2 linked regions of the Homo sapiens genome follow. The protein of the gene in region 2 interacts with the protein of the main gene of each other region in a biochemical or structural test. Each region holds a gene or a part of one and is shown on either strand. Other genes may lie near its edges.

Region 1 (3,813 bases), on a different chromosome or scaffold from region 2:
GGACCATTAACTCATTGTCATCTTTACTGTGGGAACCAAATGGACACCATCTTAGAGAAAGATTTCAGATTAAACAGCAGATCAACTCTAAAAATAACCTCCTGTCCCTCCCTAATCCCATTAAAATAAGTTAAAAAAATATTGCCAGGTGCAGTGGCTCATGCCTGTAATCCCAGCACTTTGGGAGGCCGAAGTGGGTGGATGACCTGAGGTCAGGAGTTCGAGACTAGCTTGACCAATATGGTGAAACCCCGTCTCTACTAAAATTACAAAAATTAGCCAGGTGTGGTGGCGTGTGCCTGTAGTCCCAGCTTCTCAGGAGGCTGATGCAGGAGAATCACTTGAACCCGGGAGGTGGAGGTTGCAGTGAGCCAAGATCATGCCGCTGCACTCCAGCCTGGTCAACAGAGCGAGACTCCGTCTCAAAAAAAAAAAAAAAAAAAAAAAAAAAAAAAAAAGAAGCTAAGGGATAAATCCTCAAGATAGGAGACTGGAATTTTCTCCGGAGATATTGAATGATTCCAGAGAAAAGACTTACAGATACTGACATTTAGGGAATCTTCCATTAGGAAGGTTGACTTGTGGACAAATTACTCTGAAGTAAAGTCTTGTGGTCTGCTAGAGTGAACCGAGACCAGCTCATAAAAGCCAACTGTGTACCTCTTTTCCCAAGTTTGTATTTAGTGATGTCATGTTGGTAGAAATAGTTACACCACAGAAATAATAAAGCACTGCAAATCGGGCATTTTTCTCCAAAGAGCTAGTTGTTAAACATTTACCCATATATTACTGGGCCAAATCCATCAATTATACTTCAAATCAGCTTTTCAGTGAGTGATTCTTTAAGAATGAATAGCCAGGGTCGGGCATAGTGGCTCAGACCTATAATCCCAGCACTGTGGGAGGCTGAGGTGGACAGATCACTTGAGGTCAGAAGTTTGAGACCAGCCTGGCCAACATGGTAAAACTTTGTTACTACTAAAAATACGAAATTAGTCAGGTATGGTGGTGTGCACCTGTAATCCCAGCTACTCGGGAGGCTGAGGTGGAAGAATCACTTGAACCTGGGAGATGGAGTTTGCAGTGAGCCGATATCGCACCACTGCACTCCAGCCTGGGCAGCTGAGCAAGATTCTGTCTCAAAAAAAAAAAAAAAAGAAAAGAAAAAGAAAAACAGTAAGGAAAGTTATATGGACCAGCAGGCGTGATAGCTCATGCCTGTAATCCCAGCACTTTGGGAGGCCGAGGTGGGTGAATCACCTGAGGTCAGGAGTCCGAGACCAGCCTGGCCAACATGGCAAAACCCCATCTCTACTAAAAAATACAAAAATTAGCCAGGTGTGGTGGCACATGCCTATAATCCCAGCTACTTGGGAGGCTGAGGCAGGAGAATCACTTGAACCCCCGGGATGCAGAGGTTGCGGTAAGCTGAGATCCTGCCACTATACTCCAGCCTGGGCAACAGAGCAAGACTGTCTCAAAAAAATAAATAAATAAATAAATAAAAGTTATATGGCACACATTGAGTAGTGTAAAAAATTCTCATCTACCATAATAGGGAATCAACAGAATCTTATAAAATTGGCCAGGCACGGTGACTCACACCTGTAATCCCAGAACTTTGGGAGGCCAAGGCAGGTGGATCACCTAAGGTCAGGAGTTTGAGACCAGCCTGACTGACATGGAGAAACCCCATCTCTACTAAAAATACAAAAATTAGCCAGGTGTGGTGGTGCATGCCTATAATCCCAGCTACTCAGGAGGCTGAGGCAGGAGAATCGCTTGAACCCAGGAGGCGGAGGTTGCGGTGAGCCAAGATCGCGCCATTGCACTCCAGCGTGGGCATCAACAGCGAAACTCCGTCTCAAAAAAAAAAGAATATTATAAAATTAATGGGTCAAAGAGTATCTTTTTAAGTATATTACTTAGAAATATAGAAGAATGTTACAGAAACAGCTAAAATTGTTGAAAGTGATTGCCTGTGAGCAACAGACTATGCCGTTTTTAACAGGCAAAAGTAGCAGCAGTTATTGGGTATAAAGCAAATTCAGATTTGTCTGTGCTCTTATTTTATTTATTTATTGCAGTGGTACAATCTTGGCTTACTGCAACCTCGGCCTTCTGGGTTTAAGAACACTTCAACCTCCCTAGTAGCTGGAACTACAGGTACACACCACCACGCTCAGCTAATTTTTTTTCTTTTTTTTTTTTTGAGATGGAGTCTTGCTCTGTCGCCTAGGCTGGAGTGCAGTGGCATGGTCTCGGCTCACTGCACTCCGCCTCCCAGGTTCACTTCATTCTCCTGCCTCAGCCTCCCGAGTAGCTGGGACTACAGGCGCCCGCCACCATGCCCGGCTAATTTTGTTTTTTGTATTTTTAGTAGAGACGGGGTTTCACTGTGTTAGCCAGGATGGTCTTGATCTCCTGACCTTGTGATCCGCCCACCTCGACCTCCCAAAGTGCTGGGATTACAGGAGTGAGCCACCACACCTGGCACTCAGCTAATTGTTTAATTTTTTGCAGAGACAAGGTCTCATTATATGGCCTAGGCTGGTCTTGAACCTCTGGGTTCCAGCAATCCTCCTGCTTTGGTCTCTCAAAAGGCATGAGCCACTGCATCTGGCCTGTTTGTGCTCTTAACCACTATGCTATACCGGTTCTCAGGGACCAGTTTCTGGGGTACCCAACCCCACCTTACCTCCTCCACATCTTCATCCAACTGCTCATTAGGATCCACTTCTCTTACTAAGTCCTGTAATTTCTTCTTGGTCAATACCTAAAGTTAATTGGAAGAAGACTTTTCAACCAGATATTAAGGAAATGAAACAAATCATTACCCTGTAATGAAGAAAGGCTGTCAAATTGTTGGTTTTAGTTTCCACTTTCCAATGAGTTCACAGTCTGGCCTACCTGACTATGCTGCTGTAAGACTACACTCTCAAGACAGAAGTAACTTAGGGAAAGGTGGAAAGAGCAGTTTGAAGACAGGCCAGCATCCAGCTGTCAGGCAGTATATTTCAGCCTCATGTCTTTTTCTCACTGTGTCTCTTCACATGTAGAAATTTGCAATTCTCTGACCACCACAAATTGTACCATGCCCCTTGCCTTTAGACAAGTTTGTTTTTTTGTTTTGTTTTGTTTTTGAGACAGGGTCTTGCTCTATTGCCCACTGGAGTGCAGTGGCATGATCATGGCTTACTGTAGCCTTGACTGCCAAGCTCTCCCACCTAAGCTTCCCAGCTAGCTGGGACCATAGGCACGTGCCATCATACCTGGCTAATTTTTTTTTTTTTTTTTTTTTTTGAGAGACAGGATCTCGCTATGTTGTGCAGCCTGCTCTTGAACTCCTGGCCTCAAGTGATTCTTCCACCTCAGCCTCCCAAAGTGCTGTACACACTCTTCCTCTCTTCTTCCTTCTTGCTTAGCTCATGGTGCCTCTTTCTGATGCTTTTCCTAGCCCATCCCAGTAAAGGTAACCACTTACTTCCTCCTTTGGCCTCTACTGTATCCTGTGTACCCTTTATCATTGTGCATATTTATATACTTCCCTGTTTCTGACTTAATAGGCTAAAAGCTCCCTGAGGGCAGCCTTCATAAAGGAAATGTCATGTTACATACGTATGCCATTAAAAAGTAATCAAAAGAAAGCCAGGCACAGTGATCTGTGCCTGTAGTCCCAGCTACTCAGCAGGCTGAGGCAGGAGGATCACTTGAGGCCAGGAGTTAGAGACTGCAGTGAGCTATGATTGTGCCACTACACTCCAGCCTGGGGAACACAGGAAGACCTCATGTCTTAAGAAACAAACAAAAAAA
Region 2 (3,813 bases):
GTGGCTCAGGCCACCCCAACAGCCCACAGACAGGTGGGACAGGAAGTGACACCAACCTCCTCAAAACGCCTGCAGATGAGCCCAGTGACAAGCAGGGGTATTGTAACACAACTGGGTTGAGTTATTCCAGGAACGCAAAACTAGATTTCCGCAAGAACAGCCATCGCTAAACTTACCATGCTGTCAAAATTAAGGAGAAAAATCATGTCATTTTAGTGGATACAAAAAAAGCATCTGATAAAGGCATTCGTGATAAAAACTCCTAGTAAAGCAAAAATAGGAGGAAAATTTTTTTTTTTTTTTTGAGATGGAGTCTCACTTTGTTGCCCAGGCTGGAGTGCAATGGTGTGATTTTGGCTCACTGCAACCTCTGCCTTCCAGGTTCAAGCGATTCTCCTGTCTCAGCCTCCTCAGTAGCTGGGATTATAGGCGCCCACCACCACGTCCAGCTAATTTTTGTATTTTTAGTACAGACAGGGTTTTGCCATGGCCAGGCTGGTCTTCAACCCCTGACCTCAAGCGATACACTCACCTCGGCCTCTCAAAGCGCTGGGATTACAGGCATGAGCCACCACGCCAGGCCTTTGTTTTTTGACATAGGGCCTCACTGTCTCCCAGGTTGGAGTGCAGAGGAGCAATCATGTTTCACTGCAGCCTCGACCTCCTGGGCTTAGGTGATCCTCCCACCTCAGCCTCCTGAGTAGCTGGGACCACATGTGAGTCACCACACCTGACTAATTTATTTATTTTTTTAAATTTTGAGACAGAGTCTCACTCTGTCACCCAGGCTGGAGGGCAGTAGTGTGATCTCAGCTCCCTGCAACCTCTGCCTCCTGGGTTCAAGCAATTCTCCTGCCTCAGCCTCCCAAGTAGCTGGGATTACAGGCATGTGCTACCATGCCCGGCTATTTTTGTATTTTTAATAGATAGGGTTTTGCCATGTTGGCCAGGATGGTCTCGAACCCCTGACCTCAGGTGATCCACCCACCTTGGCCTCCCAAAGTGCAAGGATTATAGACATGAGCCACCGCGCCCAACTTCCTTAATCAAATAAAGGGTATCTACAAAAAGTCTACAGCAATGTGGTGCTGGGAGTGAAACATTACAAGTTTTCCCTTTTGAGGCCGGGCACAGTGGCTCACGCCTGTAATCCCAGCACTTTGGGAGGCCGAGGTGGGTGGATCACCTGAGGTAAGGAGTTCGAGACCAGTCTAGCCAACATGGTGACATAGTGAAATCCCGTCTCTACTAAAAATACAAAAATTAGCTGGGTGTGGTGGCAGGTGCCTGTAGTCCCAGCTACTCAGGAGGCTAAGGCAGGAGAATCGCTTGAATCCGGGAGGCGGAGGTTGCAGTGAGCCAAGATCATGCCATTGCACTCCAGCCTGGGGGACAAGAGAGAGACTTGGTCTCAAAAAAACAAACAAAAAAAGAAGTTTTCCCTCTTGGTCAGGACCAGCCAAGGACGCCTGATCCACTCTGCCAAGTATAAGGTCAATATACAGAGATCAACTGCACTTCTGTGTACATGCAAGAAACAGGGGTAACCACTCAGAAGAATTTTTTTTTTTTTTGAGACGGAGTCTTGCTCTGTCGCCAGGCTAGAGTGCAGTGGCACAATCTTGGCTTACTGCAAGCTCTGCCTCCCAGGTTCAAGCCATTCTCCTGCCTCAGCTTACCGAGTAGCTGGGACTACAAGCGCCCACCACCACGCCTAATTTTTTTTTTTTTTGTATTTTAGTAGACTCGGGGTTTCACCATCTTGGACAGGCTGGTCTTGAACTCCTGAGCTCAGGCAATCCACCCACCTCGGCCTGCCAAAGTGCTGGGATTACAGGCGTGAGCCACTGCGCCCGGCCACCACTCAGAAGGATTTTAAGAAAAATGTGTACATAGTCAAATGGTCTAACTGGCATGTTGGGGGAAAGGGGACAGAATCAATAGCTAAAGAAATAGCGACCAAAGGCTGGGCGTGGTGGCTCACGCCTGTAATCCCAGCACTTTGGGAGGCTGAGGCAAGCGGATCACGGGGTCAGGCGATCGAGACCATCCTGGCTAACACGGTGAAACCCCGTCTCTACTAAAAATACAAAAACATTAGTCGGGCGCCTGTAGTCCCAGCTACTCAGGAGGCTGAGGCAGGGGAATCGCTTGAACCCAGGAGGTGGAGCTTGCAGTGAGCCGAGATTGTGCCACTGCACTCCAGCCTGGGTGATAGAGCGAGACTCCGTCTAAAAAAAAAAAGAGAAAGAAAGAAAGAAAAAAAAACCTTGAAAATCTGAATAAGAGGACGTTTACAGGGTTTCAAAATAAGTCCCTACAAGATACTTTTAGTTACAAAAGGAAGAAATAACCTTACAGTGGGGGAATCCAGGCCAACACTACCCAACCAAGCATCAAAGCATCAGCATCCAGTCATGAGGCAAAGGCCTCCGCCGCCTCCTGAAAGCTGATGGGGCTGCTGTTTGCCTCTTCTGTGGTGTTCCTGTCAAAAATACAAATGTCTCATCTAAACACCTGGGAATGTCTTGGCCGGGCTCCGTGGCTCACACCTGTAATCCCAGCACTTTGGAAGGCCAAGGCGGGTGGATCACTTGAGGTCAGGAGTTCGAGACCAGCCTGGCCAACATGGTGAAACCCCATCTCTACCAAAAATACAAAAAATTAGCTGGGTGTGGTGGCAGGCGCCTGTAATCCCAGCTACTCGGGAGGTTGAGGCAGGAGAACTGCTTGAACCCGGGAGGCAGAGGTTGCAGTGAGCTGAGATCGCACTGTTGCACTCTATCCTGGGTGACAGAGGGAGACTCTCTCTCAAAAAAGAAAAAAAAAAGACAGCTGTATGAAAGGTGGCTGTCTCCCTCCCTCTCCAGGTGAATCTGGGCTGGAGGCTGCCTTTAGGGCAGACTGTGGTGGCAGGGACGGTGCCCTCCTGGTCTAGCCCTTAAAGTGACTGGCAGCTTCTGCCTTAGCCTCCTAGGGCTCTGAGTTCCTGCAAGAAGCTCAACTACACCAACACCACCATGCTGCCAGGAAAACCAAGCTAGCCATGCTGGGGACAGGGGAGAGTGGAGGGACGGTGTGGGGGTAGGGGAAGACACATCTAGCCTGTCCCCAGCTCTTCAAGTCATCCCTGTCAAGGCTTGCCCTGGTGGAGGAGAGCCAAGGGCTCCCCACACTCTGATGAATCCCTGAAAACCTGGCTTCCAGGTCTGCGATTATGATAAAAGACCTCGTTTGCATATTCCAGGGCAGTTAGTTACAGAGCCACGACTAGACTGACCCCAGGAGGATGGCTTGAGCACAGGAGTTCGAGGCCAGCCTGGACAACATAGCAAGACCCCGTTTCTTAAAAACAAAAAACAAAACAGAAGAAGAAAACCTCTTTTCCTGCTATTTATGGCTCCATTTCTTGCTTCAGTTTACGCACATCTCCTCCAGAGTTGTCTGTGTTCACTGTTACTGACTCTCCTCCCCTGCTGGGCTCTTACCCCTGCTCCATTCAGACCACAACCCCTCGTGCCCACCAGACTGCCCTGTCAGTCACCAGGCATCACCTGAGGCTCAACAGCGTGGGACCCAGTGTCGAGTCCCTCCCAGCTGCCTTCCCTGGGCCTCCAGGGCCCTGTCCAGCTTTCCCCCTGCCTTCCAGGCCATGCCACCTCCAGCTCTTTCATGGCCTCTCATCTCCCCAATCTCTCAATGTTGGGGTGCCCCAAGACCCTGTCTTTGTCTATATTCTGGGTGATCTCAACCAGTTTCCAAGGGCAGACACCAACCCCAGGCTGAAGACTCTGACTTGACCTCCATACCAGA

The links.
Region 1: the proteins of CPSF1 (region 2) and TAF12 form a complex in vitro, tested with the Homo sapiens proteins (one study listed by BioGRID).

Annotation. Positions count from the first base shown.
Region 1 is NC_000001.11:28,615,255-28,619,067, forward strand, and holds part of TAF12 (transcription initiation factor TFIID subunit 12), read right to left. Parts: intron 2,777-3,813; coding exon 2,699-2,776; intron 1-2,698. UniProt on the Homo sapiens protein: The TFIID basal transcription factor complex plays a major role in the initiation of RNA polymerase II (Pol II)-dependent transcription.
Region 2 is NC_000008.11:144,402,811-144,406,623, forward strand, and holds part of CPSF1 (cleavage and polyadenylation specificity factor subunit 1), read right to left. Parts: intron 3,024-3,813; exon of another isoform or gene 3,020-3,023; intron 2,486-3,019; exon of another isoform or gene 2,355-2,485; intron 181-2,354; exon of another isoform or gene 57-180; intron 1-56. UniProt on the Homo sapiens protein: Component of the cleavage and polyadenylation specificity factor (CPSF) complex that plays a key role in pre-mRNA 3'-end formation, recognizing the AAUAAA signal sequence and interacting with poly(A) polymerase and other factors to bring about cleavage and poly(A) addition.